Homo sapiens: one gene and its partners. The protein of the gene in region 6 purifies or fractionates together with the protein of the main gene of each other region. This does not show direct contact. Each region holds a gene or a part of one and is shown on either strand. Other genes may lie near its edges.

Region 1 (3,500 bases), on a different chromosome or scaffold from region 6:
CAAAGGTAGAGGCATTCTAGGGAATCTAAATATGAACAAAGCATGGACCTTGCTCTGAAGGATCTTTTAAACCTAACAGGCGCATAGTCTTATGAATCTCTTACAGACAACAAATCGAGAGAAGAGCTAAGGAAGTACGTAAAAGGGCAAAATGGCCTACAAATAGAGGGTCAAGGTTGGTATGACAGAAGTAGGATTTGAGAGAGGTGGATGTTTTGGAAACAAGAAAGGGAGTGACCAGAAGAATGACTATGGGAAAGCACTGGGTTTGTTGTAGAGGTGGAATTGGCCTAGTTTGGCTGGAGCATGAGCTGCATGAAAGAAAGTAAAATAAAATAATGGCAGCTAGAACTCAAAGATAGATTAGGGCCAGATTGTGAAGGGCCTTGAATGCCACATGGAAGAACATTCTGTAGGTATTTTGGGCAGGAGATGAAAAATGACCCTACAGAAGGCCCAATAATGATGATAAATGGTTAAATATGTTTAAGTTACCAATCTATGCTAATCTTTTAAGAAATGTTATCTCACTGTAACTATGAATAGTGTACTGTGTCCATTTTGCAGATGAAAAATGAAGGCTCAGCAAGATTAAGGAAACTGGAAATGTCAAGAGCTGCAGCTAGGACCCAGACTTGGGTCTGTTGGATTCTAAATCCTGTTCTGTGTCTCACTGTGATTGATATATTGTCACTTCTTTTATTAAGAACTGATAAGGTCTTAATCCTCTGTCAAGAATATGGCTGTAGAAAAAGGATGTTTTCAAAGTTGTGAAGGGACTGCTTCTCACCATGTTATGTTAAGGAATGTAATCACTACCCAACTTGACTTGTACTGTTCTCTGTTTTGAGACCAGAGCTAGATGGGAAATTAAAGAATTGGATGATGTTTTATTTACATGCCTGATGACATCAATACATGCTCATAGCAAATGCCTTTGTTTTCATTTTCAGTATCTAAGCTTATTGGCCCTAAGTAAATCTTAGGTTAGGTAGAGCTCAGTTCCCAGGGACATTCAAGATTCATAAAGAAGTGATATTTTTCCCAGCTAAAATATTTTTCTTCTTACCAGGTTCTCTACTTAAAAGACAATGACTACTGATGAAGGTGCCAAGAACAATGAAGAAAGCCCCACAGCCACTGTTGCTGAGCAGGGAGAGGATATTACCTCCAAAAAAGACAGGGGAGTATTAAAGGTGAGGCCACAAAGCTGAGTGACATACAAGGAAACCTGCTGTCTGGAAAGATTATAGCATCTCTTTCTGAGGGGGGCTGGGGTGGATAATGTTTATTGATGGTTACTAAGTGCCAAACACTAGAGCTAGATTCTCATTTTGTCTTCATAACTTCAAGGTTTTTTTTAAGAGTTGAGTCTCGTTATGTTGCCCAGGCTGGTCTTGAGCTCCTGGGTTCAAGTGATCTTCCCATCTCAGCTTCCTGAGTAGCTGGGATTTTCTTTTTAAATTAATTAATTAAATTTTTGAGAGAGGGCATCTCATTATGTTGCTCAGGCAAGTCTTGAAATCCTGGCCTCAAGCAATCCTCCCACCTCAGCCTTCTGAGTAGCTGGGATTATAGGCACGAGCCACTGTGCCCAGCTAGAGATTTTAATTTTTAATCCCAGATTATAGATGTTGAAATTGAGACTGGGCTAGGTAAATTAACTTGCCTAATATCATATATCTTAGTAATGCAGATTTACCTGGGGTTCAGGTCCAAGTTATATCTCACTCTAAAGGGCTATATTTCCCTATTCTCAGAGTATACAAATAGGTTACTATTTTAATGTATCCTTTTAGTACACTAAAGCTAGCTAATGACAATTTTGAAGACTTTTTAAGGAAAGAAAAGCTAACTTGAAAAATTCAAAGGGGTTTTATTTTATTTTATTTTATTTTATTTTATTTTATTTTATTTTATTTTGAGACAGAGTCTCCCTCTGTTGCCTGGGCTAGAGTGCAGTGGTATGATCTCAGCTCACTGCAACCTCCGCCTCCTGGATTCAAGCAATTCTGCCTCAGCCTCCCGAGTAGCTGGGATTACAGGCGCCTGCTACCATGCCTCGCTAATTTTTGTAGAGACAGGGTTTCACCATGTTGGCCAGGCTGGTCTTGAACTCCTGACCTCAGGTGATCCGCCTGCCTTGGCCTCGCAAAGTGTTGGGATTACAGGCATGAGCCACCGTGCCCGGCCCAAAGGGGTTTATTTTTATATATAAATATTGTTCCTGTGTACAGTGAAGATATCTTTTGCGATTTCCTCTTAGAATATATCTTACTTTTGAATTAGCTTTCCTACTTATTAAAGCACTATACAGTCATTCACCATATAATGACATTTCAGTCAGTGACAGACTGCACCTTCAGCAGTGGTCCCATAAGATTATAATGGGGCCGAAAAGTTCCTATGGCCTAGTGGTGCCATAGCTGTTGTAGCATGGGTAGTACAGTGTATTATGTGTTTGTGGTGATGTGGGTGTAAACAAACCTACTGCACTGCAGTCACAGTTATGTATAGTACATAATACTTGATAATAAATGTTTATATTACTGGTTTATGTGTTTACTATACTTTCTATCATTATTTTAGAGTGTGCTTCTTATTTTTTAAAAAGTTAACTGTAAAACACCCTTGGCTGAGTGCAGTGGCTCATGCCTGTAATCCCAGCACCCTGGGAGGCCAAAGCAAGAGGATCACTTGAGGCCAGGAGTTCAAGACCAGCCTGGGCAACATAGTAAGACCCCTATCTGTAGAAAAAAAATTAAAAAAATTAGCCAGGCATAGTGGCATGTACCTGTAGTTTCTACTACTCAGGAGACTGAGGCAGGAGGATCATGTAAGCCTGGGAGTTCCAAGCTGCAGTGAACTATGATCATACCACTGCATTCTAGCCTGGGTGAGAGTGAGATCCTGTCTCAAAAACAAATGAACAAACAAAAAACAGCCTTGGGCAGGTCCCTCAGGAGGTATTCAAGAAGAAGGCATTGTTATTATAGGAGACAGCAGCTCCATGCATGTTACTGTCCTGAAGACCTTCCAGTGGGACAAGATGTGTTGGTGGAAGACAGTGATACTGATGATCCTGACCCTCTGTAGGCCTAGGTTTATGTATGTGTTTGTGTCTTAGTTTTAAACAAAAAAAAGTTTAAAAAGTAAAAGAATAAAAAATTTAAAAAACAGAAAAATGCTTATAGAATAAGGATATAAAGAAAGAAAATATTTTTGTACAGCTGTACAGTGTTTGTGTTCTAAGTGTCATTACAAGAGTCAAAGCTAAAAAAAAAGTTTACACAGTAAAAATGTTATAGTAAGCTAAGATTGATTTATTATTAAAGAAAGAAGAAAAATTTTAAAATAAATGTAGTCTAGGTGTCCAGTGTTTATAAAGTCTACGGTAGTGTATGGTAATATCCTAGGCCTTCATGTTCACTCACTGCTCACTCGCTGACTCATCCAGAACAACTTCCAGTCCTGCAAGTTCCATTCATGGTAAGTGTTCT
Region 2 (4,016 bases), on a different chromosome or scaffold from region 6:
GACCACCAACTTGGAAAGACATGGAGCCAAATGCCAAGTCCTCAGGGAGGGGGGCAGAGAGCAGAGGAGAGGAGCAGAGGGCACGGGAGGAGAGTGCAGCCGGCAGAGACTCCAGAGAGCAGTGCCACTCCACAGGACAAGGACAAACCAAGTCCTGAGAGAAGTAGGCACCAAGGAAGAAGGCCAGAGAAAGCCACCTCACGCCACACTGCAGCCCAGAAGCAGAAAACCAAACAGAACCAAACACACGTTTCAAACAGACAACTTCCCTGAAGTCCAGCAACACGTTCAACAAGCACCCGGAGTATTGGCGAAAATGCCCTGTAACGGCCAACACCAAGACACGGCAATGACAGTGAGTCACTGATGAGATCGAGAACTCAGACATCGCCAGACTTCTGCACACACACCCACCCTCCAGACAGTGCCCGGTAGGGCCCTAAAAAGCACTGGGGGAAGGAAGTGGAGTTAAGACTGGCATCTTCAGCCAAACCGACCTTCATGGTGAAGGGTCCAGGCCGTTTTGAACAAGCAAGAACTCGGGAAGGTTGTTCCCATGAGCCAGTCATGAACTAGACACAAAGTGGCCAGCAGGGCTGGGCAGCACTTTGCAGAAGGACCGTGAGAAGCAGTGAACATACTCACCACCAGACTCAAACTGATACAGCTGGGGACAGGAGGAAGGGCAAAGTATTGATGCTGTGAGCTCTGACAGTGGGGGAAGGAGACGCAGGTCCACCACAGGTACATGCACAGACACAAGCACACATGTTTACAGGCATGCACACATATACATTTATGCGTGCACACACAGACATGGAGCAAGGGGGAAGACCAGTGGGAGCGAGCACCAGCCTGTTGGCTGCCTCCTGTGAACGGCTGGAAATCACAGCGTGTCGTTCAAAACGAATGAACCAACCAAGCAGAAGTGGAGCATCTGGAAAGCCTGAAGGCCAACAATAGAAGACGATGCAACAACTGACGACTGGGGGTGGCGGAGCGGGAGGAGGAAAGCCTGAAGGCCAACACTAAAAGACGATGCAGCAACTGACTGTGGGGGTGGTGGAGCGGGAGGAAGGGAGGGGGTGACCCGCGAGTCTCACTGCCGCTCATCAATAGGACCAAGCGTTGTGCAAGCGGAGGACTCCGGGTCACCACCAGGGGAACACAGAGCATCACAACTGCAGGAGGAAAATGGGGCAAGGAAAGATGATGCAAAGTTCCCGTGCACCATCTCGGAGCCGGGAAGCCACAGCCCCGGGAAGCACCTCCCGTGGTGCCCACACGGCAGAGGGGTCCTCAGCGGGGGTGGCCTCTAGCCTCTGTCCTACCATGTGTGTCTCAAACGCACCCAGATCCTCCACCCCATCGAGGCTTACTCATTGGGAATAGGAGATCTATTCCCGGGAGGAGCTTTGTATCGGAAAGGAGGATGTGTGGTTCCTTTGGTTTTTAAAATACCTACTTTATTAAATTACAAAATTTTAGAAACCTAGTTTTTCCTTAAGGTTTCATTATCTATTAAACCTAGCAAATATTCACATTGACCTTTGGGGGTCTCTGTTTCATGTTTGTCTCATAATTAAATGTCCTTAGACATATAAGATGCATGTGTAAATTTAACACATACTATCTTAATTTTTGTAAGTATACTTTAAATGCCTCTAATAAGCATAATCTTTCTAAATAAGATTAGTCTCACAAAGATAATAACTAAATTTAAAATAAAAACTGAAGGCCCGGTACAGTGGCTCATGCCTATAACCCCAGCCTTTTGGGAGGCAGAAGTGGGTAGATCACTTGAGGCCAGGAGTTCGAGACCAGCCTTGGCAACATAGTGAAACCCTGTCTCTACAAAAAATACAAGGGCATAGTGGCGTGCGCCTGTAGTCCCAGCTACTTGGGGGACTGAGGTGGGAGGATTTCCTGGGCCCTTGGAGGTCAAGACTGCAGTGAGCCGTGATGGCACCACTGCACTCCAGCCTGGGCCTTTCGGGTGTCTAACTGTTCACCTGCTCACGTGAGGCCTGGCATGGGGCACACAGAAAAACATGGCTTTTGCTTAAAATAAACGTGCCACATCACACATGCACACGCCTATACACACACAGCCCCCACCATGACAGAGGCCCAGGGTCTGTGCACAGCTGGCGGGCAAGGGCAAGCCTTGGGCCCCACAGCGCGGTCATGCAGGTGATGCCGGCACTCACGATTGTACAGGGTGACGACGTGCAGGCAGTTGAGCAGCTGCCGCTTGTACTCGTGGATCCTCTTCACATGCACATCGAACATGGAGGAGGGGTTGATCTTCACCTTGTACTCCTTCTCCAGGAAGGCCGAGAACTTGAGCTTGTTCTCCTGGGAGGGTGAAAGGGAAAGATGGCTGGAGACTTCACCAGGACTCCATCCACTGACCCTGCGGCTTCCTGCTTCAAGTGCCCTGTGAAGAGTGCCGCAGGGAGGGGGCAGGGGTATACAGGCTGGAGCTGAGGGGCAGAGATTGCACCAGGGGTCTTCTCATGGGAAAAGGGGAGAGGGGGATGCTGAAGGTGGGTCCACACCAAGAGTAGGGGATAAGTGAGGAGCCGGCCCAGGAGCACGCCTGGAGCCAAGCAGAAGACACTGCAGAGCCAGGCGTGCAGGCGGCGGAGCAGCGCGGGAGCGGGACGGCTGAAAGGACTACAAGGAGAACTAGTTCTGGCCTCTATGAGGAGGCCAAGCTCGACAGGCTGTGTAGATGGGCCTCCAGCCCGCTGAGGTTTGAAGGCTGCCGTGACTGGCCCTGGTCTAGCCGAGAGGCTGCTGCCGGTGCAGACAGCTCGTGCACCTGCACAGCTCTCCAGGGGCAAAGAGGGTACCACGCTGGAATCGGCTTCTAGAGGCTTCCATACAGAACTGACCTGTGGCAGAGGGTCGAGGCACGGGCAGGGCTGGCCTGGGGTCTGCACTCACCTATCTGCCATGTGACCTGTCCTCCTCGGGGCCCTCATCTGAAAGGCTGAGTGGGGTGGAGAGACCTCAGGCAACCCTAACAGCCTCACCCTCAGTCCTGTTCTGAGTCCCCACTAAAGCCCCAGTGGGTACCCCAGGACCTGTGCTGGGCCTGTAGGAGGGCTAGGGCCAGGGCCTACCTGCCTGGTTGTGGGAGGGCTGGGGTCGGGGCTGGGGCCAGGGCCATGCCTACCTGTTTGACCTTGGCCACGTCCCTGATGAACACCTCGTCACTGACCAGCGGCAGCAGCTTCTTCAGCTGGCTCAGGTCAGTCAGGAACTCCTCCCCAATTTTCTGGAGAACGTAAAGGTTCCGCTCACTGTGGGCCTCAGCCTCCTGAGGCTGGGCCCCCTAGCCACCTGCCCTCCTCCCATTGTTGCCCACGCCCCTGCTTTCCCCTGGGATCTGCTTGTCCGGCCCCTCCGGGCATCCCACCTCTCAGGCCACAGGGTTACCCCAGCAGCCCCTCCTTCCTCTTCTGAGAGGGCTCTGCGAGATGGCCCAGTCCCACCAGTTCAAACGTCCACAGGAAACACACGACCCTCCCTCAGCCACCGATCCCAGGGTTCTCTGACATTGAACATCCCATCACCACCCAAAACCCAAAGCCATCCTCCCGCTGCCCTCCACCAGCACCTTCCCTGCCTGAAGCAGGCGGTCCCCTCAAAGCCAGCACCTCACCCAGGTGCTGCCTGCAAACACTCGGCCACCTCTCCTCACTGTACCCAGGCCCATCTCAGACTGCACAGGAGCCACGCTGCTTTCCAGGTCCCAGGGGCCCGTCCCCCAGCACAGGGCATTGAACCAGTTTGCCCCAGAGCACTGCTCACTCTCTCTTCATTCCCTCTTCAGACCTCAGCTTTCCTGGGAAGGCTTCCCTGACCATAGCCCCAGGTGGGCGGTCCCACCCTCCCAGCGGCTGGTCCTTGCCTGTAGCGCAGGGCCTGACACCTCAGCACTCATTTCCTCAGGGAGCTTGCATAGGAGCCAACATACAAACAGGAAATAGGTGCCCAGCCTAGCT
Region 3 (4,016 bases), on a different chromosome or scaffold from region 6:
AATCCTAGCACCACAAAGGCAGATCTGTGTCTGTCTTCCTCACCGACGTGCCCCAATAGAGGGGTGAGACTATGCAATGTTACAAGGTGTTGGCACAGAACATAAAGGATGGGGGAAAGAGACTGAGAGGAAGGTCAAGGAGAGGGGAGGATGTAAGGGAAAGAAAAGGGAAACAGAAAGAAAGGAGGGAAGGGGAGGGGCAAGGATGTAGAGAAGAAAAGGCTGGTGGAGCCCCTGACACCTCCATGCGTGTCTTTGGCACTACTGGCAACTCCAATGATGAGCAGGTATTCCTGCTATTTTGTTTTTGAATATAAAGTTCTGTAAGAGATACAATCACAGGAAACATGAGGGCTCACAGATAAAAACAGCCAGAGCATCCTAGCTTCTCTCATGCCTCAACAGCTAAAGTCTACAGAAAACTGGCCAGGCGTGGTGGCTCACGTCTGTAATACCAGCACTTTGGGAGGCTAAAGCAGGTGGATCATCTGAGGTCAGGAGTTCGAGACCAGCCTGGCCAACATGGTGAAATCCCGTCTCTACTAAAAATACAAAATTAGCTGGGCGTGGTGGTGTGCGCCTGTAGTCCCAGCTACTCAGGAGGCTGAGGCAGGAGAACCGCTTGAACCTGGGAGGCGGAGGTATCAGTGAGCTGAGATCACACCACTGCATTCCAGCCTGGGTGACAGAGCGAGGCTCTGTCTCAAAAAATTTAAAAAATAAAATAAAATAAAGTCTACAAAAACTTCATCAAGGCTTTGACAAACGCACAAATACCATTCAAACTACAATAATTTTTATCATCTCTCTGTAACAAAGGCTCAGTGTCAGTGTCTGGGGAAGATGTGAGAAACCACCTGACCTTAGTCCCTCCATCCTGTGGCACAAAAAGACACTTCTAAGGGGTACATGGTAAGACTGCCTTCTTATCTTTCTGGAACAAAAGGCATCTGGGTTCATGTTCTCCAGTCAAAACAGACTCTTTCTCCCGAAGGTCAACTCATGAATACATCTCAGTCCTTTTGTGGACCCAATGCTGAATATGGGCACAGAGTGGGCAGACCCTCACATACACCATCCCCAAACACTACCATGAGAAGCCCTACCCACAGGGCAAAGGTTCAAAGGCTGGCCTTTCATCTAGTGGCCACAGGCAAATGCAGCATAACTGGAATGAGCCATAACCAGGCAGGTCTGGCTGTCTAAGCACCTGAGCTGAGCTCAGCTGAGCAGGTGCTGCAATACTACCTGAGGCTTCAAACTCTGCATGGACGTAGGCCAAGCAAAGATGTCCTTTAAGCTTGCCATGCCCCGGGTGGAAAAGGGGGCCAAACCTAGAGGAACATTCTCTTCCATAGAGACAAGGGCCAGGGTGGACAGGGCTGTGAGGACAGACAGGTGTGAAATCAAATCAGAGGTCAAACCCCATCCCTGCTGCCTAAGCTACTGAGTCACAACCTCAGAAATTCAATCTCTCTATTGTGGGGGGAAAAAAACAAAAACAAAAACAAAAAACAAACAAACTGTATTTTCAGGGGTACTGTGCAGCCAGTCAACCCCACCTTAACTGTGTGTACTAAGTGCTCAGGACATGCCCCTGGTGTGGCAGGGCCAGGTGAGGAGAACATGTTGACACTCCTCTCCGCAGGCTCCTTCACCTCATAAGAGCAGGATGCACCTGTCTGTGAAAATAGGCAAGAACGGACGAGACACAGCAACAGGGCTTGCAGAACCACCTACGATGTATTAATACGTGCTGTACCGGAAGGTAAGACTAAGACAATCCAGATACACCACAAGGTAAGGTTCCTCCAAGAGACAAAATGAGAAGAAAATATCGATCAGCGATCTTCAGGGGGAGGAGGCGGTCCGTGTTTACAGAACAAAAATAAGGAGACTGTGCCCAGCAGATGACCCCTCCCCACTGACTCAAGGCTGCACTGCGTCCGCGTGCCCTGCTGTACTGCGGCCCAAACCCACGTGCTGGGTATATGGGACACGGGAAGTTAAAAATAATCTGAGGAAAGCAACCCTTTTTTCCCTAAATAGCTACTCTTGGAGTTATTAAAATAGGAAGAAAGAATGTATACATCTAATTAATCATTCTCTTTGGCCATGAGCAAACTCTACACTGGGCACTACACTGGTCAGACAGGAACCTTTCTCTTCCTCCTCCCTAACCCACTGCTGACATCACAGAGTCTTCACATGCTGGCCTCCAACATCCAGAAACTGGCTCTGCAATCTGGCTCCCTCCCCTCCTCTACCAAAGGTCCCACCAAGCGACTCTTCATGGGAAGATATGTGCAGATGAGGCACAAACAAAAGCCATCAACACACTTGATGTTACCAGGCTCTGGTGCAGGAAGGGCAGATCTCATGACACCCTTCGAGGTCCTGTTAACTGGGCTCTCAGCCCAGGTATGAGAACACAGCTGAAAGACCAGAGTGCACCTGTGAGGCAGTGATTGGGGACAAGAGCAGGTAAGACAGGTTCCTTGCTAGGCTAGGACATGGCAGGAAGCTGGTCCACACAACCTTCTTCCCCACCGTCATCACCAACCCCTCTGCCACTATCGGCCTTGTCACCAGCACAAGGGCCTAAAGGGTGGACTCTCCAGGACTGCCATGCTCGTACCAGCTCATGGCTCTGTGGCTTGCCCTGCAGCTTCTGGTGGTAGTCAAAGGTAAGCCTGTCCAACACCGCCTGTTCCTCCTCATCCACGGTGGCCATGGAGCGCTCCTTGTTGATCTTGTCAATGTCGATGGGCTCTTCTCCCTCCAGGATGGCGTTCCACCAATACTCGCCCACCTTGCTCAGGTTCACCTGGGGACAAGCAGGACAGAGACCTGAGTCAGAGACCTGAGACAGGTGTCCAGGGCTGGGGACAGAGCAGAGCCCACTGAGGGATGGGTGTCCAGGATAAGCTCAGGACCAACTACACAAAGGGAGGTGACAGACAAGAGGGGGTGCCAGAACCCAAGGCAGGACCCTCTGTGCCTGGGAATGCATTTGCTGCCTGTGCTAACATATCCCAGGGAAGAGCTAGGAGGCACATACCTGAGGGGACTGACATTCTGGAAGATGCCTTTATCCTTCTTCAGCAGGTCCTGGATACTCAGGACAGTGCCTGTTCCATGTGCACACCTTGCCCACTCTCATGAAGAAAGGCTATTTTCCAAGACCCATGACACCCCCCCACACCAGGACCTGTCCTGGGCCAACCCAGCCTGCCCCCATGCTTGCCATGGAAGGCTCTGCTTAGCTCTTATCAACCAACTACCTCTCCAGTGATCTCTCTTGCTTCCAAGAGCAACATCCAACATTCTGCTATCTTAGGGGTAAGCTGGGACCTATGAGACTTAGGGCTCAGCCTAATGCATGACAGAATCTCCTGGGGAGTCCTCACCCCATGACAGGGCACCATGCCCTGTCCCCACTTCTTCCTCACTGGGGCCAAGCTTGCTGCATGAGGGGGTCCTCCAGCCCCATTCCCTAAAGTTCTCTGATGGCTTGGGAAGGAGAAACGACCATCAAGAAACAACCCCAAAAGAGGCCTCCTTGGGCACCTCTGTGGGGATGGCACAGACATCCCTTGGTCAAAGGAAGCAGCACCCAGCATTTAAGATCCAGCCCTCAGTGTTGGGGTCTGTGAGACTCATGTCATTACCATAAAAACTTAAAAGACAACTGGAACTGCAGTATGAGAGCAAACGTGAGGGGTGCTGTATGTACCTAGGTGACCCTGGCTGCTTGGCCTGTCCCAGGGACACAGAGGAGGGCCCTGGCCACACCATGCCCTGTTATCAGTGGTCATACAGACACAGAAAACAAGAAAACTGGCTGCATCTGCTGTGGTCAGTGGCTGGGCTCAAAATTCTTACCAGAGTGGCCAAGAAGCAACAGAGTGGGTTTGTCTACTTTGCCCTAGATGAGCACTGCACTTTTTCAACAGAAATACTTGATCTGTGTTTAGATTTCATAATATTTACAATTGAAAGAGGTACATTCACAT
Region 4 (4,016 bases), on a different chromosome or scaffold from region 6:
ATGTTATCCTCCTCATGTATTCCAGATTCCAGGGACTGAGAGCAGAATTACATACACTACTGTTCCTATTGGAACTCATCAGGGATATATATCCAGAGTTGGAAGTGAAGTTAATTGGATAATCACCTAGCTTACATGAAGTCATGTTAGCATCTTACACATGCATTGTGATACCGTGCACTGAAAAATCCTTCCTATTTCACATCAGCAAAATAAAACAAACAGCAACCAAAAAAACACCTTTCTTTTCTCAAAAATTGGAGACAGGAGTAAAGGCAAAGGCCTAAATTTCTGCTGAAAATTCTCAAGGTATTTACTCCTTTAGATTAAAGCTATCTCTCAAATGCCAGATACCATGACCCATTAATAAATAATTAAATCAATTTAGTGAGCTTAATGGAACAAAAGTATGAGTGCAGTGCACCAACTTCAAGTTATTTCCAAATAAAAAGTTAAAAAAAAAAAAAGTACAGCAGAAGTAGTATAAATATCATCTTGTGAAACTTTTATCTCAGTTACGAATATGTTCTTTCTTTCTAAGGGTCATTCGCAGTCAAAAGAATTTAAGAAACATGAGACTGTAAGCACTATTAAAATACAAAAATTCAAAGAAAGCAATCTATTTTTTCTGGATTTGCATTTTTAAAATACAAATGATAAATGTTTTAAAGTTTTTTCAAATGTTACAGAACTGTATTAAGTAAAAATGCAAGCCTCCACACCCTTATTAAAGTCCCAGTCCCACTCTCTAGAGCTAAAACCATTGGCAACAGATGGTATTTGAGAGGCTCAAAATAGATTTTCCAAAAGCCAAGCAACCAGTCTTCGAGAAAGGTTTAGGTGAAGAAGTTCCCAAGCATGGTTACTGTTTATAATTCGGTGAGCTAGCAGGAAGGTTTTTGGGTCCCAAAAATAGAGGTAGAATGTATATGTGAGTGTGGGGTGGGGGTGGGGGGTGGTGGTGATGACGTAGGAGGCATAAAGGAAGGTGGGAGGAAAGGCACCTGTCATTGCCTACTTCATATTCTTGCTGTGGGTTAAGTGTGAAAATAACCCACATTAGCATAACTAATAACTATCAAGCATAGTTTTATAAATGCTAAGTCATGATAATGACTCCTTTAAATAAGCCACTGTAGGTTTGATTATGTAATATGTTGGGATCAAACTGGTGCATATTCTTCACTACAAAGATGAACAGAACCATATTTTATGTACCAAGCAAGCTTTCTGTATAAATACGTGATAAAAGCAAGGGGCCTAGAAAAAAATGAGGAATCGTTTCTGTGGCTAGACTGAACTCCTCAGTACAGGCAAAAGAGAAAGAACATGTGTAATGCCCCAAACCAAGAGGAACTTCTCAAGGAGCTCTTAAACCAAGGATGAGGACCTTGGCTGACTGAAGAAAGCTGTTAGTCCTTAAAAGAAGGGGAAAAAGGCAAAACATCCTTACATGTTTCTGCACGTCTCCCCCAATCTCTTTACTGATCTTCAAGTACTCTGCCACAGGACCAGCAAGCAGCGAGTCAAATGCCTGCACATATGGAGCTGCTCCTGCTAAAGACAAACACACCACAAAGAATCAGCCATGCATCAGAAGGAGGCTTCTTTAAAACGTGCTTCTACATGAAAGTGGGGAGGCAAGGTAATACAGTCAACAGGATACAGAACAGGAGTAAGGAAACCTGGGTTCCAGGTCCAGTATCACCACTAACTGGTTGTGTGACCCTGACTAAATTCCTTTTCCTCTCTGAGCTTAATTTTCTTTATCTATAAAATGAAAATAAACAAAATGATCCTCCAAGGTTTTTTTTAGTGCTAACATTCTATGTTCCAACTGGTGCATGTGCAAAATGTCCAATTTGCCAATTGTTTGGAGAGAGGAATTTTATTATCACTTGTCATTTGACTTACATTGGAGTCATTCTGCTAAAGAAAGAGCAGGAAATATTGCACAAGCAGGAAGTTCTTGTGTTAAAATAACTTAACCACAGGCCTCCCTGTACAAGTCATTTCCTCTCTTATCTGTTCACAGCAATACAAATTACAAAAGGTAAACTTTCTAGATTAAGTTTTGGGAAGTTAGCGCCAAAGGAGAGAATAATAGAAAATTTTCAGGCCAAGACGCTCAAAGAAAGCATTCTGCTGGGCTGTGGACTGCTTACCTTTTGAAGGACTGTCTGCATACCCACGGTGCATGTCAGAGGTATGAGATACTGCCTCCAGGCGGCCCACTGCCCTCTCCAATCTTTCTACCAGATTTTGCATGTCAGCCATAATGGACCACCTGCTGAAACAGATCAAATGTCATTTGTTATTTAAATATTAAATAGCACCTACAGAGAAAAAAACAGAAAATTCCTGGTCATCCCCAGGTGGATGAAGAGGATGCCAATTCTCAGGAACAGAATAATTTAATAAAATTAGATATCATCTGCAAAATGGAACAATACAAAAATATCAGATAAAAAAGTAGCATATTTACAAAATCAAAAGACCTCATTAAGCAAGAGAACTGCTCAGGAAAAGGTGTTCACTAAAGTAAATGCTTACTCATTCAAATACTCAATATTTACTATGATACTGTGTGTAGAAAGTTAGAATTTGCAAAGGATAGTCACATACATTATCTCAGTTTGAGCCTCCCGACAACTATTCAGGAATAGAAGGATGATTACTACACGCTTAGAGATAGAAAACTTAGTTTCAGTGAAGCTAAATGACTTGTCTAGTCACACGGCCAGTGAATAGAGAAGCCAGTACTCCATCATATCCTTATCTGATCCTTCTGGTTCTAAGTTCAGTGTGTTTTTTTCCTACAACATCCTGCTGCCTGCATGTGAAATATCCCAAACCAAGATGAATAGGATGTTTACTCTTCCCTCAATAATTTTTTTTTTTTCAGACAAAGTCTTACAATGTCACCCAGGCTGGAGTGCAGTGGCAGGATCTCAGCTCACTGCAAGCTCCACCCTGTTGGGTTCAAGGGATTCTCCTGCCTCCCAAGTAGCTAGGGTTATAGGTGTGCGCCACCATGCCCAGCTAATTTTTTGTAGTTTTAGTAGCGACAGGGTTTCACTGTGTTGGCTAGGATGGTCTTGAACTCTTGACCTCAAGTAATCCACCCGCCTTGGCCTCCCAAAGTGCTAGGATTACAGGCGTGAGCCACTGTGCCCGGCCTGCCCTCAGTAATTTATAGTCTAATGGGGAGACTTAACATATGCACTAACAACTATGAAACAAATAGAAAAAAATGTTAAGGTGACATAAGAAAGTTGCTGATAGAGAGGCATGAGATTTCAAAGAGGGGAGTAATATATCAGCTGGAAGGATCAGATAAGGATATGATGGAGAAGCTGCCATTTGAGCCAGCCTTCAAATGAAGATGAGAAAGATCTGGACATGCAGTAGGGAAGGACACTAGACACATCCAAAAGAATTTGTTATAGATCTTTCACAAGTACTATCTTATCTGAAATAGCCTAATTCAATGTCTAATATCCCAAAGAAAGTAAGCTCCAACAGAGAAAGGACCTTATATAGCTTGTTCCTTACTGTATACTCTACCATCTAGACTACTACCTGGCAGGTAGTAGATGTTCAATAAATATTTATGAAGTTATAAACCTCACAAATAGCATTCCAAAACTCCAGAGGGATAAGGGTGCTAAAAGTTGCCCATAAGTCACACATAAGTGTAAAATATGATCAATGCACCTCTACATAAAGTATTTGAGACCCTAAGTGATCTCATAAAAACCAGTCAGTGAAATTTCAATCCAAGCTTTGACTTGGAAAGATTCCATTTCACAAAAGCGTCAATTCAGGCAACTGAATTCAGTTCAGGTAACTGAAGCTGAATGAACTCAACTCCCTTGAAGCTGCCTAAAATGACAACAGCAATTATGATTCCCCCAAAGATGACAGCATGCCAGAATTATCTCAATTTAACACATTGTCCTCCCTGTGGAAGAGATAAGCAGCTCACAAGATAAAGTAAGGAAGACAATATAGTC
Region 5 (4,016 bases), on a different chromosome or scaffold from region 6:
GGCCATGGGGACAGGGACTGAGTGCAGGCAGTGGGCTGGGCAGACACTGGGGAGCAGGGCAGGCCACAGACAGCCCCACCTGGGTCCTCTGGGCTACCTCTTGCCCTGCCCAAACCCCCAGCACATGACTGGCCATTCTACCTCTCACCAGGAACCTTGGGGAAGTCACCATCACCTCAGTAATCTCTGTAAAATAGGCCCCACATGTTCTGTCCATCAAGGGAATTTTTTTTTTTTTTTGCACACTTATTATGTGCCTGGCAGTGAATTCAATGCCCTGCTTATATTTTCTCACATAACCTGACAACGACCCTGCAAGGTAAGTACTATCACTGGCTCCACTTTACAGATGGGAAAACTGGGCACAGAGGGGTTATAAGGCAGCCTGACTCAGGGGCCCAAACCCCTACTCTATTCTCCTCCCTTACCCATCAGGTCTGTTTTCAACCCTGAAATCTCAGGAGTCTAATTACACCCTCATCATCCCCAACGGTAGCAATCCTCCCACTATACAGGCAGGCAAACAGAGGCCCAGAGAACCACCAACATCACATCTCACAGCAGATCAGAGGGAAAGTCAGGGCTGTGGGTTCAGAGAGCAGGAGCTGGGTCCTCAGCTGAGACGTCAGGTTCCTCTCTAGCTTCCATCCCCTGGGTGGGTCTGGGAGTCCCACAGGTAGGTGCCCAAGCAGCCACACCCTGGCAACTGTCCTGATGCCCCCAGGGAGAGGGACGCAGAGGTTCCACCCTCTAATTAGTCGAGAAGGAGGAGACAGCTGCATGGCTTTCCCACCTGGATGCTGTACTTTTTGCTACCAACACAGTGCCTGGCCCTGCCAGCCAAAAGGCCCCCTGCTACCCCTACCAGCTGTCAGGGAGGAGACTGGCATGCGAGGGCTGAGCTCCATAGAGCCCCACCAGCCACAGTCTACTCACACTACTCCCAGCACCCACAGCCCACCCCCTGGCATGTTCAGGGCCCTGGAGGCACCTGTGGCCAACAGTTCTAGGGCCTGGCTATTCCTCTCTCCCAGAGGGGCAGGGGAGGCTTGGGCTGGCGGGGCATCCCCATCCCGGACTAAGCCCCAGAGCTGAGTCAGTCACTCATCCCACAGCCTTGGCCTATCTGCAGGTCAGCCGCAGAGGCCTGGTCTCCCTCCAACCCCAACGAGGGGCCCTCAGGCTTGACACCTACACCCCTCTACCCAAAGGGGAATCCCTGGGGGTTCCTGGGGGCTACGGCCCTGGCTCTCCCACAAACGTGAGGCTCCTGCAGCCAAAGGGCTGCGTCCTCCCTGCCATCCATGGGCTCCCTGAGAGCCATAGTGATACATCCTCATCAGACTCTTTTTTTTACTATTTTTTGAGACGGAGTCTCACTCTGTCGCCCAGGCTGGAGTGCAGTGGCGCAATCTCAGCTCACTCCAACCTCTGCCTCCTGGGTTCAAGCAATTCTCCTGCCTCAGCCTCCCAAGTAGCTGGGACTACAGGTGCATGCGCCACCACACCCGGCTAATTTTTGTATTTTTAGTAGAGACGGGGTTTCATCATGTTGGCCAGGCTGGTCTCAAACTCCTGACCTCAGGTGATCTGCCCACCTCAGCCTCCCAAAGTGCTGGGATTACAGGCATGAGCCACCGTACCCAATGTCTTCATCAGATTCTTATGTTCACAGAAGGCAAGGACTATGGCTTTTCCTTCAGACTGGAGGCACCCTAAGGGCAGGGACTATGCCTTCCCTCCCTACTGATGGTTCACAGAAGAGGATTCTGTGACCCTCCCAGATGCAGCACCCTGAAGTAGCTGCACCTCCTCCTTCAGACTGGGTGGGCCCCTAGTTAGCATGAGCTGTGCCTCCTCCCTCAGACCAGAGACCCCCTACAATCTGCCTCCTTTCACTCTGACCTCTCTCCAGGACCCAGGCAGGTTTTCTGCCCCATGCAATAGTCCCCAGGGGTCCTGACCTTGGCTGGGGGGCACCCCCTGGGTGTAAGTGGTGGTTTTCTTGAGCGTGTACTGGCGCCCGCAGGCCTCATCCTCCTCCATGATGCCCTTGCTGCTGACGGAGGGCACGCAGGTGTTGGCGCCCGAGTGGATACCCGAGTCGTAGGTGTATGTCTGCTGCCACTCAGTCACCTTGATAGGCTGCTCCATCAGGTTCATCACCTCCATCGTGGCTACTGGGGGCACAAAGGAGGAAGTCAGGAAGCAGGAAGTCACCTGGCCCAGCCCCCAGCTTCAGCCCGTCACCAAGCCCCGCCTGTCTTCCCACATCATCACCATGGCCCAGGGATTTCAATGAGGATGCAGGCTGGGGATGGGGGGACTGCCCAGAAGGGCACCAGGCCCAGGGAGGGGCTGCCCACGACGAGATACCCTGGGAGCAGTGAGCCCCAGGGGTGCGGCTGTGTGTATGTCCTGGGCTTGCATCTCTGACCTCCCAGGGGGATGAGCCCCAGGGGGCAGGACAGTCAAGGGCCAGCTGCCGCCAGAAGCCCCTGCTCACGCACCTTGCTGCCCTGACCCAACTCTCCCAGGGGCAAGAGAAGGCACTCAGGGCTTCTAGCAGCTTCTGAGGTCCCCTGGGCCCACCCTCAACTACTGGGGCTCCCTGGGAAAGGCTGCAGGGAGGAGGCACCCAAGCCATTGGGCAGGAAACTGGGCGGGGCAGGGAAGCGGTCTGACAGGTTTCTCTGGAGCGCCCCAGGCTCCCTCAGAGACTCCAGGATCTGGCTTTCCTACAGGTTGGGCAGGATCACACATGGCCCTGAGGTCCAGACCCTAAGGCCCCCTCTCTCCCAGCCCTCCCAGTCCCTAGACGCCTCTTTGAGTCCCACAGAGCAATTCAAATCTCAGCTACTCACTACTGGGGCAGTTCCTCTCCCCACAGAACCTCAGTGTCCTCATCTGTAAAGCGGGGTCACGCCACCTCCCTCAGAGGTGGTTGCGAGGACCTGGTGCATAGCAGGTGCTCAGAGGCCACGGCCATTATCATCAGCACTGCCTCTCCTCCAGAAGTGCTTCCTCACCTCCTGGTCTCCTCGAGCCCAGGCTAGGGATCTGGGGTGGGGCAGGCCTGTGGGTGGTCACTGCCGTCAGGAACCCCTCTCTCTCTCTGCAAAGGTTTAGGCGCACCTGAAGGTTAATGAGTAGCAGGGCCGAACTTTGTACCAGGGAGGTGAACTTCCCGCTTGGTCTGTGTTTGGCTCCACTGTCCTGGGAACTGACCTGCAGAGGTCAGAGGCTGCGGGGAGAATGGACGCCGTGATCCCATGAGGGCCTACTACGAGCCAGACCTTTCACAGACACCGTCATGCTCATGGGCGGGTTTCAAAGCCCATGCACTGGTCCCCCGCGTACAGATGCAGAAACTGAGGTTAGAAATGGCAGAGCTGGGACTGGGACCAGGTGTGAGGGCACCAAGGTCTGTAGTCTTTGCACATCCCGGCGCAGCCTCAGTGAGTAAGCAGAACTCAGGCTGGTCCACCCATGAAGCCAGGCAGCACCCGGGTTGTCTCACTGTGATGGGGACCAGGTGAGGGTGGGGTGGCTGGGGCAACCTGGCCCCACCCCAGGAACAAAGATCACCAAGGATAAGTCTTCCCTGTGACTGCCCCAGTGCCGCCCTGGCCCTCCAGGAGGATGACGAATGGTCCTGCAGGTCTCCCAGCCTTTTATGGCAGGCAGCCGTGAGCACACCCGGAACAGGCAGAGGCAGGGGCCAGGCCAGCTCCCAGCTGCCTCCTTCCTCTCCTCCCGCAATCCCTAGTGACTCAGAGTTTCAGGCTGATTAAACAGAAGCAGTCCCGCCACCTCAGACGGCAGACCCCAGACGACAGGCTCGGGCCGCCAGATGTGCACAGCTGCTTCCCAGGCATTCGAAAGTGTAGCTATTTCAGAAGGAGCCCCCCCAACCAGCCCCCTTTCCACACGCACCCCTTCCCCACACCCCTTCCCCAGCAACAGAGGGGAATGGCCACTGGCAGGAAACAGGGGCAATGGTGGGGGGCGGGGGG
Region 6 (4,016 bases):
GGCTGGCTAACGGCACGTGCTGCCCGAGGGGACTCCGACAGAGCCCAGACATCCCCAGGCTCACGGGGAACTTTGTACTCAGGCTCCTTTGACCTAAAGGGCCCACACTTCCTGAGTGCCCACTGTGTACCAGACACTGAGGCACACGGAGGCTAAGCCACTTGCTCAAGGTCACAGCAATTAAGAGGTAGAGCTGGGACTTAAGTCCCATCTGACTCTAGAACCGAAGCTCTAAACCTTTCTCTAAGCCTCAGTCTGCGCACCTATAGAATAGACACGATACCACCCATTAAACTGCCCTGAATCAAAATGAGATGATGTACAAGGAGCGGAGACCAGAAACTAGGATTAATCCTGAGATTTTAAAGGTGACAGGTTTTCCAGAGCATCTGGGAAATCCCATCTTCTCTCTATGGGGCCAACAGTACCCTCCTCAGTGAGCCAGAAAGCTCACTCTCATGGCTCTGCCCCTTCCCACTCCATGAAACGCCCGCCAACGGGGAAAGGCACAGACGGGAAGGGCTGCGGGGAACTTGTATGGGGTTTCACCAGAATCCAACCACCTCTGCTCTCCCCTCCCCTTCGTGGGACAGAAAAAATACCCCCATCCCTGCTCCTGATGAAGATGTCCCTAGGGAAGGAATGATGGCTAGAAAAGGTCTGAGAAAGGGACAGTTGTCCATCCTACCCCCGTTCAGGGCCTGTCTGCTGAGTAAGATGCCAGTGCTGAGTGGGTGGGAACCAGCAGAAGACCTGCACCCCGTGCCGGCTCACACCCCCACTCCAAGGCAGGCTCACCTGCTTGGTGAAGTCCTTGATGATGCTGTGCTCAGACACCTGGGAGCCAATGGCAAAGCGGCGCTTGAGCTGCTTCTCGATGCGGCTCAGCATCTCCTGGTCCTCCTGGCTGGTGAAGCCCTCCACCCCTGTGGGCATGGAGAAGTGAGGCAGCCGGGGAGCTGGGACAATGGGAGTTCTTGGACAGAGACAGCCTCTAGCCCAAGGAAGAACAGCCTGAGCCAGGCCCCGAAGAGTAAGTCAGAAAAGGGCACCGAGTGTGCCAGGGTGGTGCAGGCCTGATTGAGGAGACAGGATATGGCACATGTGGGGACACTCCAGGCCAAGCACAAAGTCACAGAGGCAGGAACACACCTGTCTCATTCAAAAAGCAGCCCGGGGCCCAGCGCAGCAGAGACATGGCCAGAGTGTCACTAGGGACCAAGTCCTGCGGGCCCTTGGAGGCCACAGCAGGACTCCTTTTGTTGCTGGAGCAGATAGATTAGAGAGAGAGTTGGAAGGGGCCCATCAGTGACCCAGGAGGGAAGCCAGCCTGCCCTGGACACATCTACGAGGTGCCCTGAGGAGCCCTCGGCAACCAGGAGGCTCGTGACTTCCAATTACTGCCACAGAGGCCTTGGTGTTTCAGCTAAGGAGATGGTGGGCTCATGGTCAAGAAGTCATTGAGAGGGGAGTCTGTGAGGCAAACTCCTACATAGCCCATAAGACCCAACTCAAATTATCACCACTCCATATCACCCCTGCCCTCTGTGCCTGCAGCATCCCAGAGGCCTCCACCTGCAATGTCTCATGTGACAGCAAGTGTCTCCAGGGTAGAGGCTGAGTCTTCACCAAGGGGGACAGGAGGAACAGGCCCCACCCACCCCATTCCTCACCCAAGTGCCTCCCCATTCAAATGCACCAAACCTGCTCCCTCCTGGGGAAACTGACACTTAGCGCTGCCTCCACCTGAGCAGCTCTTCCCCCAAGGAGCCACACTGTCCCCTTCATGCAGCTCCCTGCTTGGCATCACCTCCTTGCAGAGGCCATGCCCACTCACTCCATGGGAAAGAGCACGTCCTCCTTTTCCAACACACCTGGCCCTGCCATCATCTCCCTCACTGCCTTTTTCACTACCTACACTACCTGCATTTGTTTCTCTACTGTCTATCTCTCCCCAACTAGAACGAGAATGAGAACCCAGGAGGGCCGGGACCCTGTGATTGATTGCTCTTATACTCCCAGCACCTAGAACAGTGCCTGGCAAACAGTAACACTAATGAAGTATCTGCTGGGTGAAGGAACAGATTTTCCCCAGCGTAGGTAGCCTGGCTCATGATCGGTGCCTGGGACAGTCTGTTGAAAGGCTGACCGAAACCAGACAGTATGGCTTATGGTGTGGAAAACGCTGGCCTAGGGGCCAGGAGACTTGCATTCCAGCCAAGCGACTGTGATCTTGGGCACCAGGGAAAGGCCCCTTCGAGTGTCAGCTGTCTCATTTCTAACATGGGCAGGACTGACTGCTCACCTGGCTTCCAGGGGGCAGCTGTAAGGCAAAATGCAAGAAATAACTCTGGAAGCACTGAAAATGCTGACAAGCTCTAGGAAGCAGAGCATCAACTGTTGTTCCTAGCCAGTGAGAAGGGTTATCATCAATGACCTGGGTCAAGAGGATTGTGTTCAAGGGTCTGGAGAGAAGCTGCTTCTTCCCATCTTGGAGGAAACAGCGGTGGGGAGAAAGGAGGAGAGGGGTCTTATGGCAAAAAGAAACTCAGAGAAGCTCAGCAAACTCAGAGAAGCAAGACACACACTGCAGGCCCCCAGCAGGCCAGAGCCCTGCCCACAGAGCTCCGAGCCAGGGAACCCAGATCAATTGAGACCATGGCCCCTGCATCTGCTCACCTGACAGGGTACCGGACAAGGCAGCATCCAACGTGGACACTTGGAAGAGCCGCAGGGCCTCCTCCACATCTGCCTCTGTGGCGAAGGGCTGCAGCTTCATCTTGCTGAGGGCTTCCGCGATGCGCACAATGGCCTCCAGCTGCCTGTGGGGGCAACAGCGTGCTCAGGGTAGCCTCGGTCCGCTATTCCCTTCCTCCCCAGCCAGCCCGTTACCAGGGAGGTGCTTGCCCAAAGTGGTAAGACTGTGGTGGAGACTGCTAGGTGTCCCCATAATCCATCTCCCTTTTGATCTTAGTCATAGAACTGCAATTTTTTTTTTTTTTTTTTTTTTTTGAGACAAAGTCTCGCTCTGTGGACCAGGCTGGAATGTAGTGGCATGATCATAGCTCACTGCAGCCTCGAACTCCTGGGCTCCAGTGATCCTTCCACCTCAGCCACCTGAGGAGCTGGGTCTACAGGCATGCACCACAATGCCTGGCTAATTTTTTATTTTTTGTAGAAATGGGAGTCTTGCTATGTTGCCCAGGCTGGTCTCAAACTCCTGGCCTCAAGTAATCCTCCTGCCTCAGCCTCCCAAAGTGCTAGGATCACAATGTAGGCCACTGCACCTAGCTTGGAACCCCAGTTTTTAGTCTGGCACACAGCGATCCACTAAAACACATCCCAGACATCTTTTGTACCAGGTTGTATTTGTGTGACCAATCTATGGCAGTAAGTTGTAAGTCCAAGCATTGTGTGGGACTTCATGAAGTGTCCTTTAAAAGGGAAGCTCTCTTTCCTTCCTGTCCTGCTGCCTGGAGGTGATGGCTGAAGTTCTAGCGGCCATCTCGGACTAAGAGTAAGGGGGAGCTTGAGGAGTCCTCACACCAGTCCCCATACCATCTTCCTCCAGACAGTGCTACAGAAAAGAGAAATGAACTTCCTATTTCTTTAAGCTACTTTATCTGGATTTACCATTACTTATAGCCAAATCCATTTCCAACCAGTCAGTGCTGGAGACAGGATTCAAACCAGGTAAATCCCAACTCTTACCCACTGTATTGTCTACAAAGTCACAAGAATGAACAGAGTTAGGAGCTAAAAGCACTGAGGGCCAGAGAAGGAATGTAATTTCCCTACAGTCACACAGTGGGCTAGAGGCTGGGACCCAAGACTCTTGACTCCCAGGCCTGGGTCCTTCCCTCCCTTCGGGCTTCCTACAATGGGAGAAGCCAGGCCAAATTCAGACAAGAGGGGTCTAGGTTTGCCCGGCCTTAAATCAAGAAACATGGATCATCATTGAGATCAAGGAGGCCATAGTTTATGCTCCAAAGGGACTCTTCCTGCCCAGAGCTACT
Region 7 (4,016 bases), on a different chromosome or scaffold from region 6:
AGACCAGCCTTGGCAACATGGCAAAACCCCATCTCTACACAAAATACAAAAAATTAGCTGGGCATGGTGGCACACGCCTGTAGTCCCAAGTACTTGGTGGGGCTGAGGCGGGATCCATCACTTGAGTCCAAGAGGTCTAGGCTACAGTGAGCCAAGATCGCGCCACTGCACTCCAGCCTGGGTGACAAAGTGAGACCCTGTCTCAAAAAAAAAAAAAAAAAAAAAAGATTTATTTTGGCAAAGGTAAAATATGCTTGCTGTATTGATAATGGACTGGGTACAATGGCTCATGCCTGTATCCCAACACTGTGGGAGGCCGAGACAGGAGGATCATTTGAGGTCAGGAGTTTGTGACCAGCCTGGGCAACACTGCAAGACCCCATCTTTACAAAAAAAGACAAAAATTAGCCAAGTGTGGTGGTGGTATGCACCTGTAGCCTCAAATACTCAGAAGGCTAAGGCAGGAGATCACTTGAGCCCAGAAGTCGAGGTTGCAGTGAGCAAAGATCATACCACTGCACTCCAGACTGGGCAACATGGTAAGACCTCATCTCAAAATAAAAAAAAAAGTATTAATAAATAAATATGCTTCTTGTTTTCACTGTAGAAAACTTTCATTTTGAATAGTATTTCATTCCAAGAGAGCATATCACCTCTTTAATATTTACATAAGAGTTTTAAAACACAAGGAAGACACTTTACAATGGCTTCATGTCTGCTAGTTCCAGCCTACTGTCCTGACTCACTTCGAGAATCAGAACCTCTCTGCCCTTTCCCAGGCCTTACCTCAGATGCCTTCAGGTTAATGTACTTGAGGTAACAGTCATGGAGATCGAGATAACGACCATATCCCTCTTCATCTGTGAACTCCACCAAGTCTGAGGGAATCAGATACATCAATGATTCAGTTTCTACAGACCACTCTCTTGGACTTACCTTTTCAAATGGACTGTGTGTTCCTAGTTTCCTGAGGCAGCACTTCACCCAAATGTCTTCCCTTTGCTCACAATATAACCTCCAATAAGTTAAGTGAGATCAAAAGTGAGTTTTCTCTTACAAGGTAACAAGGACTGACTCATTTTAGTATTGTGAACTAAAGTGAACAATCCTTGGCTTTCCAAGCCAGTAAATTTGAGGTAGGAGAGAACAAAATGAACATTTTGCCCAAGACCAACTTAGGATGTCACTCTAGCCCAGAAACCAGCAAAGACAAAACCAGCAAGAAATCCTGGCTATAAATATCTCTGAGGCCATGGCTGCAAATCTGAGCTGTCATTAACCTGTATTTTTGCTGGTGCTGAATGAAATTTTCACCCCTACTTACTTTGTGCCTCTTCACTTGGATTCTCTCGAGCCTTCAGGAGTTCCTCAAATTCCACTGACATTGGCACACAGATCTGAGGGGAAAAGTAAAAGCTCAGGTGGATTTTTCTTTTTGCTTTTGAGATGGATTCTCACTCTGTGGCCCAGGCTGGAGTGCACTGGCACAATCTTGGCTCACTGCAACCTCTACCTCCCGGGTTCAAGCGATTGTCCTGCCTCGGCCACCCGAGTAGCTGGGATTATAGGCACACACCACCACGCTTGGCTAATTCTTGTATTTTTAGTAGAGACAGGGTTTTGCCATGTTGCCCAGGCTGGTCTCAAACTCCTAAGCTCAAGTGATCTGCCCACCTTGGCCTCCCAAAGTGCTGGGATTACAGGCATGAGCCACTGTGCCTGACCGCAGGCGGATTTTTCAATGTAAAAGTTGCAAGATCACAGAAATGAAATACACAGAAAGTTGGACTTCTGATGATTTATTTGGCCTTGATTTTTCACTAGGAAATCTACTACTGTTCTCCAATTACCTTGTTTTTCCCCGCTTTTTTGTACTGTTTGAGTAAAACCCACTAAAGTAACACATGCTCACAAAAACTCAAAAGTCCACCTTTATTAATTCTCCTGAGAACAGGTGACCACTGTTAACAGAGCTTTTGCTATGCCAGTGGTTCCCAAACTTTGCTGCACATTAGAATCACCTGGGGGAGTTTTTTTTTTAAATCCTGATGCACCTGATACCAATTAAATCAAAGGAGGGCAGGTATCAGTACTTTTTAAAGATCCCCAGGTGGCTCAAATATGCACAAAGTTTGGAAAACAGTGCTCTATGTATTTAAATATATGTATTTGTACAAGTACATTCATGCCTGCATAGGTTTTTGTTTTTGTTTTTTTAACATAAAAGACTTGCGTCTGACATTTAGTATATCTTGGGCATCCTTCTAATCAGTTATTTAAGCATTTATTCCTCATTACCTTTTGACCATGGCTGGAATAAGGTTAACACATCAGAATGGTATTCATTTATTCTCCCTTGGTTAGCAGAAGACCTCATTCTCTATCCTCCAAGGGGGCTATGTGTGTGAGGGTCCCTTCATTTACCTCCGCGCTATGTATTGCAATAAACAGCCTCTATTTTTTGCTGTTTTTAGTCTCTTCCTTTTTCCCTGTGCTCCTTCAAATAAGTATGCTTCTCTGTCTTCCCCAATACCCTCCTGTTTCTCCCCTTCTTTTTCCTACCAGACTTTTTTTTTTTTTTTTTTTGACGGAGTCTTGCTCTGTTGCCCAGGCTGGAGTGCAGTGGCGTGATCTCAGCTCACTGCAACCTCCATGTCCTGGGTTCAAGCGATTCTCCTGTCTCAGCCTCATGAGAAGCTGGGATCACAGGCGTGCACCACCATGCCCGGCTAATTTTTGTGTTTTTAGTAGAGAGAGGTTTCACCATTTTGGCCAGGCTGGTCTCCAACTCCTGACCTCAGATGATCGACCCGCCTCGGCCTCCCAAAGTGCTGGGATTACAGGCGTGAGTCACTGCACCTGGCTACCAGCCTTTCAAATGCATGTTCCATACTCCATACTTCTACTTCCCCATTACCCATCTTTACCTTGTGACCAGATTTCCATTCATACTACTTTAATGAAGCAGCAATCCTGGCAGATATAAATCAATAACAGTTGACACCATGACTGCCTTTCTGAAACTCTCTTTTGCTTAACTTCAGTAAGGCAACACCACCTGGAGTGGTCATGTGACCTTTCTGATGGAAGCCTTCCCAGGCCCTTTTTCTCTTTACCTTATTATAAGTGAGCTCCAGGGCATATGAGGGCCGGGCGCGGTGGCTCATGCCTGTAATCCCAGCACTTTGGGAGGCCGAGGTGGGCGGATCACAAGGTCAGGAGATAGAGACTATCCTGGCTAACATGGTGAAACCCTGTCTCAACTAAAAAATACATAAAATTAGCCAGGCGTGGTGGCAGGCACCTGTAGTCCCAGCTACTCAGGAGGCTGAGGAAGGAGAATGGCATGAACTCGGGAGGTGGAGCTTGCAGTGAGCCGAGATCATGCCACTGCACTCCAGCCTGGGCAACAGAGCGAGACTCCATCTCAAAAAAAAAAAAAAAAAAAAAGACAGAGTTAGGAACACAATTTATTGGGGAGAGTAATTTCTGTGAAAGATAAAAAGGAAGAGAAAGTAGGATTAGGACAGGATAGCCTAGACCACAATGCAGATTGGACAAAATCTTGACCAACCCAACGGGGAGCCATGGAGCAAAGATTATTCATCAGAGGAGTCTCAGAGTGGACCAAATTGCTGGGCCCTAGTACCCATACTGTGCTCAGTCACTGGCTGGGAGCTGCCCACAAAATGTGGCCTTGACTTCTTTTTTTTGAGACAAAGTCTCACTCTTGTCCCCCAGGATGGAGTGCAATGGCGCAATCTCGGCTCACTGCAACCTCCACCTCCCAGGTTCAAGTGATTCTCTTGCCTCAGCCTCCTGAGTAGTTGGGATTACAGGCACATGCCACCATGCCTGGCTAATTTTTGTATTTTTAGTAGAGGTTGAGTTTCACTATGTTGGCCAGGCTGGTCTTGAACTCCTGACCTCAGGTGATCCACCCACCTCAGCCTCCCAAAGTGCTGGGATTACAGGCGTGAGCCACCGTGCCCAGCCGGCCTTGGCTTAAAAGCTGA

The links.
Region 1: the proteins of MCM5 (region 6) and FKBP5 purify together in Homo sapiens (affinity purification with a luminescence readout; 2 studies listed by BioGRID and IntAct, with this or other methods). This does not show direct contact.
Region 2: the proteins of MCM5 (region 6) and PYGB purify together in Homo sapiens (affinity purification with mass spectrometry, with the first as the bait; one large-scale study listed by BioGRID). This does not show direct contact.
Region 3: the proteins of MCM5 (region 6) and NUDCD3 purify together in Homo sapiens (affinity purification with a luminescence readout; one large-scale study listed by IntAct). This does not show direct contact.
Region 4: the proteins of MCM5 (region 6) and CAP1 fractionate together in Homo sapiens (co-fractionation; one large-scale study listed by BioGRID). This does not show direct contact.
Region 5: the proteins of MCM5 (region 6) and JUP purify together in Homo sapiens (affinity purification with mass spectrometry; 2 studies listed by BioGRID, with this or other methods). This does not show direct contact.
Region 7: the proteins of MCM5 (region 6) and SF3A3 purify together in Homo sapiens (affinity purification with mass spectrometry; 2 studies listed by BioGRID, with this or other methods). This does not show direct contact.

What each region holds. Positions count from the first base shown.
Region 1 is NC_000006.12:35,640,416-35,643,915, reverse strand, and holds part of FKBP5 (peptidyl-prolyl cis-trans isomerase FKBP5), read left to right. Parts: intron 1-1,072; 5' UTR 1,073-1,091; coding exon 1,092-1,196; intron 1,197-3,500. UniProt on the Homo sapiens protein: Immunophilin protein with PPIase and co-chaperone activities. Component of unligated steroid receptors heterocomplexes through interaction with heat-shock protein 90 (HSP90).
Region 2 is NC_000020.11:25,282,446-25,286,461, reverse strand, and holds part of PYGB (glycogen phosphorylase, brain form), read right to left. Parts: intron 3,287-4,016; coding exon 3,185-3,286; intron 2,359-3,184; coding exon 2,211-2,358; intron 1-2,210. UniProt on the Homo sapiens protein: Glycogen phosphorylase that regulates glycogen mobilization. Phosphorylase is an important allosteric enzyme in carbohydrate metabolism. Enzymes from different sources differ in their regulatory mechanisms and in their natural substrates.
Region 3 is NC_000007.14:44,389,659-44,393,674, forward strand, and holds part of NUDCD3 (nudC domain-containing protein 3), read right to left. Parts: intron 2,828-4,016; coding exon 2,639-2,827; intron 1-2,638.
Region 4 is NC_000001.11:40,057,608-40,061,623, reverse strand, and holds part of CAP1 (adenylyl cyclase-associated protein 1), read right to left. Parts: intron 2,291-4,016; exon of another isoform or gene 2,288-2,290; 5' UTR 2,278-2,287; coding exon 2,166-2,277; intron 1,558-2,165; coding exon 1,454-1,557; intron 1-1,453. UniProt on the Homo sapiens protein: Directly regulates filament dynamics and has been implicated in a number of complex developmental and morphological processes, including mRNA localization and the establishment of cell polarity.
Region 5 is NC_000017.11:41,769,683-41,773,698, forward strand, and holds part of JUP (junction plakoglobin), read right to left. Parts: intron 3,245-4,016; exon of another isoform or gene 2,908-3,244; coding exon of another isoform or gene 2,865-2,907; intron 2,575-2,864; exon of another isoform or gene 2,511-2,574; intron 2,181-2,510; coding exon of another isoform or gene 2,173-2,180; coding exon 1,965-2,172; intron 1-1,964. UniProt on the Homo sapiens protein: Common junctional plaque protein. The membrane-associated plaques are architectural elements in an important strategic position to influence the arrangement and function of both the cytoskeleton and the cells within the tissue.
Region 6 is NC_000022.11:35,420,124-35,424,139, reverse strand, and holds part of MCM5 (DNA replication licensing factor MCM5), read right to left. Parts: intron 2,823-4,016; coding exon 2,680-2,822; intron 927-2,679; coding exon 799-926; intron 1-798. UniProt on the Homo sapiens protein: Acts as a component of the MCM2-7 complex (MCM complex) which is the replicative helicase essential for 'once per cell cycle' DNA replication initiation and elongation in eukaryotic cells.
Region 7 is NC_000001.11:37,983,383-37,987,398, forward strand, and holds part of SF3A3 (splicing factor 3A subunit 3), read right to left. Parts: intron 1,398-4,016; coding exon 1,325-1,397; intron 879-1,324; coding exon 787-878; intron 1-786. UniProt on the Homo sapiens protein: Component of the 17S U2 SnRNP complex of the spliceosome, a large ribonucleoprotein complex that removes introns from transcribed pre-mRNAs.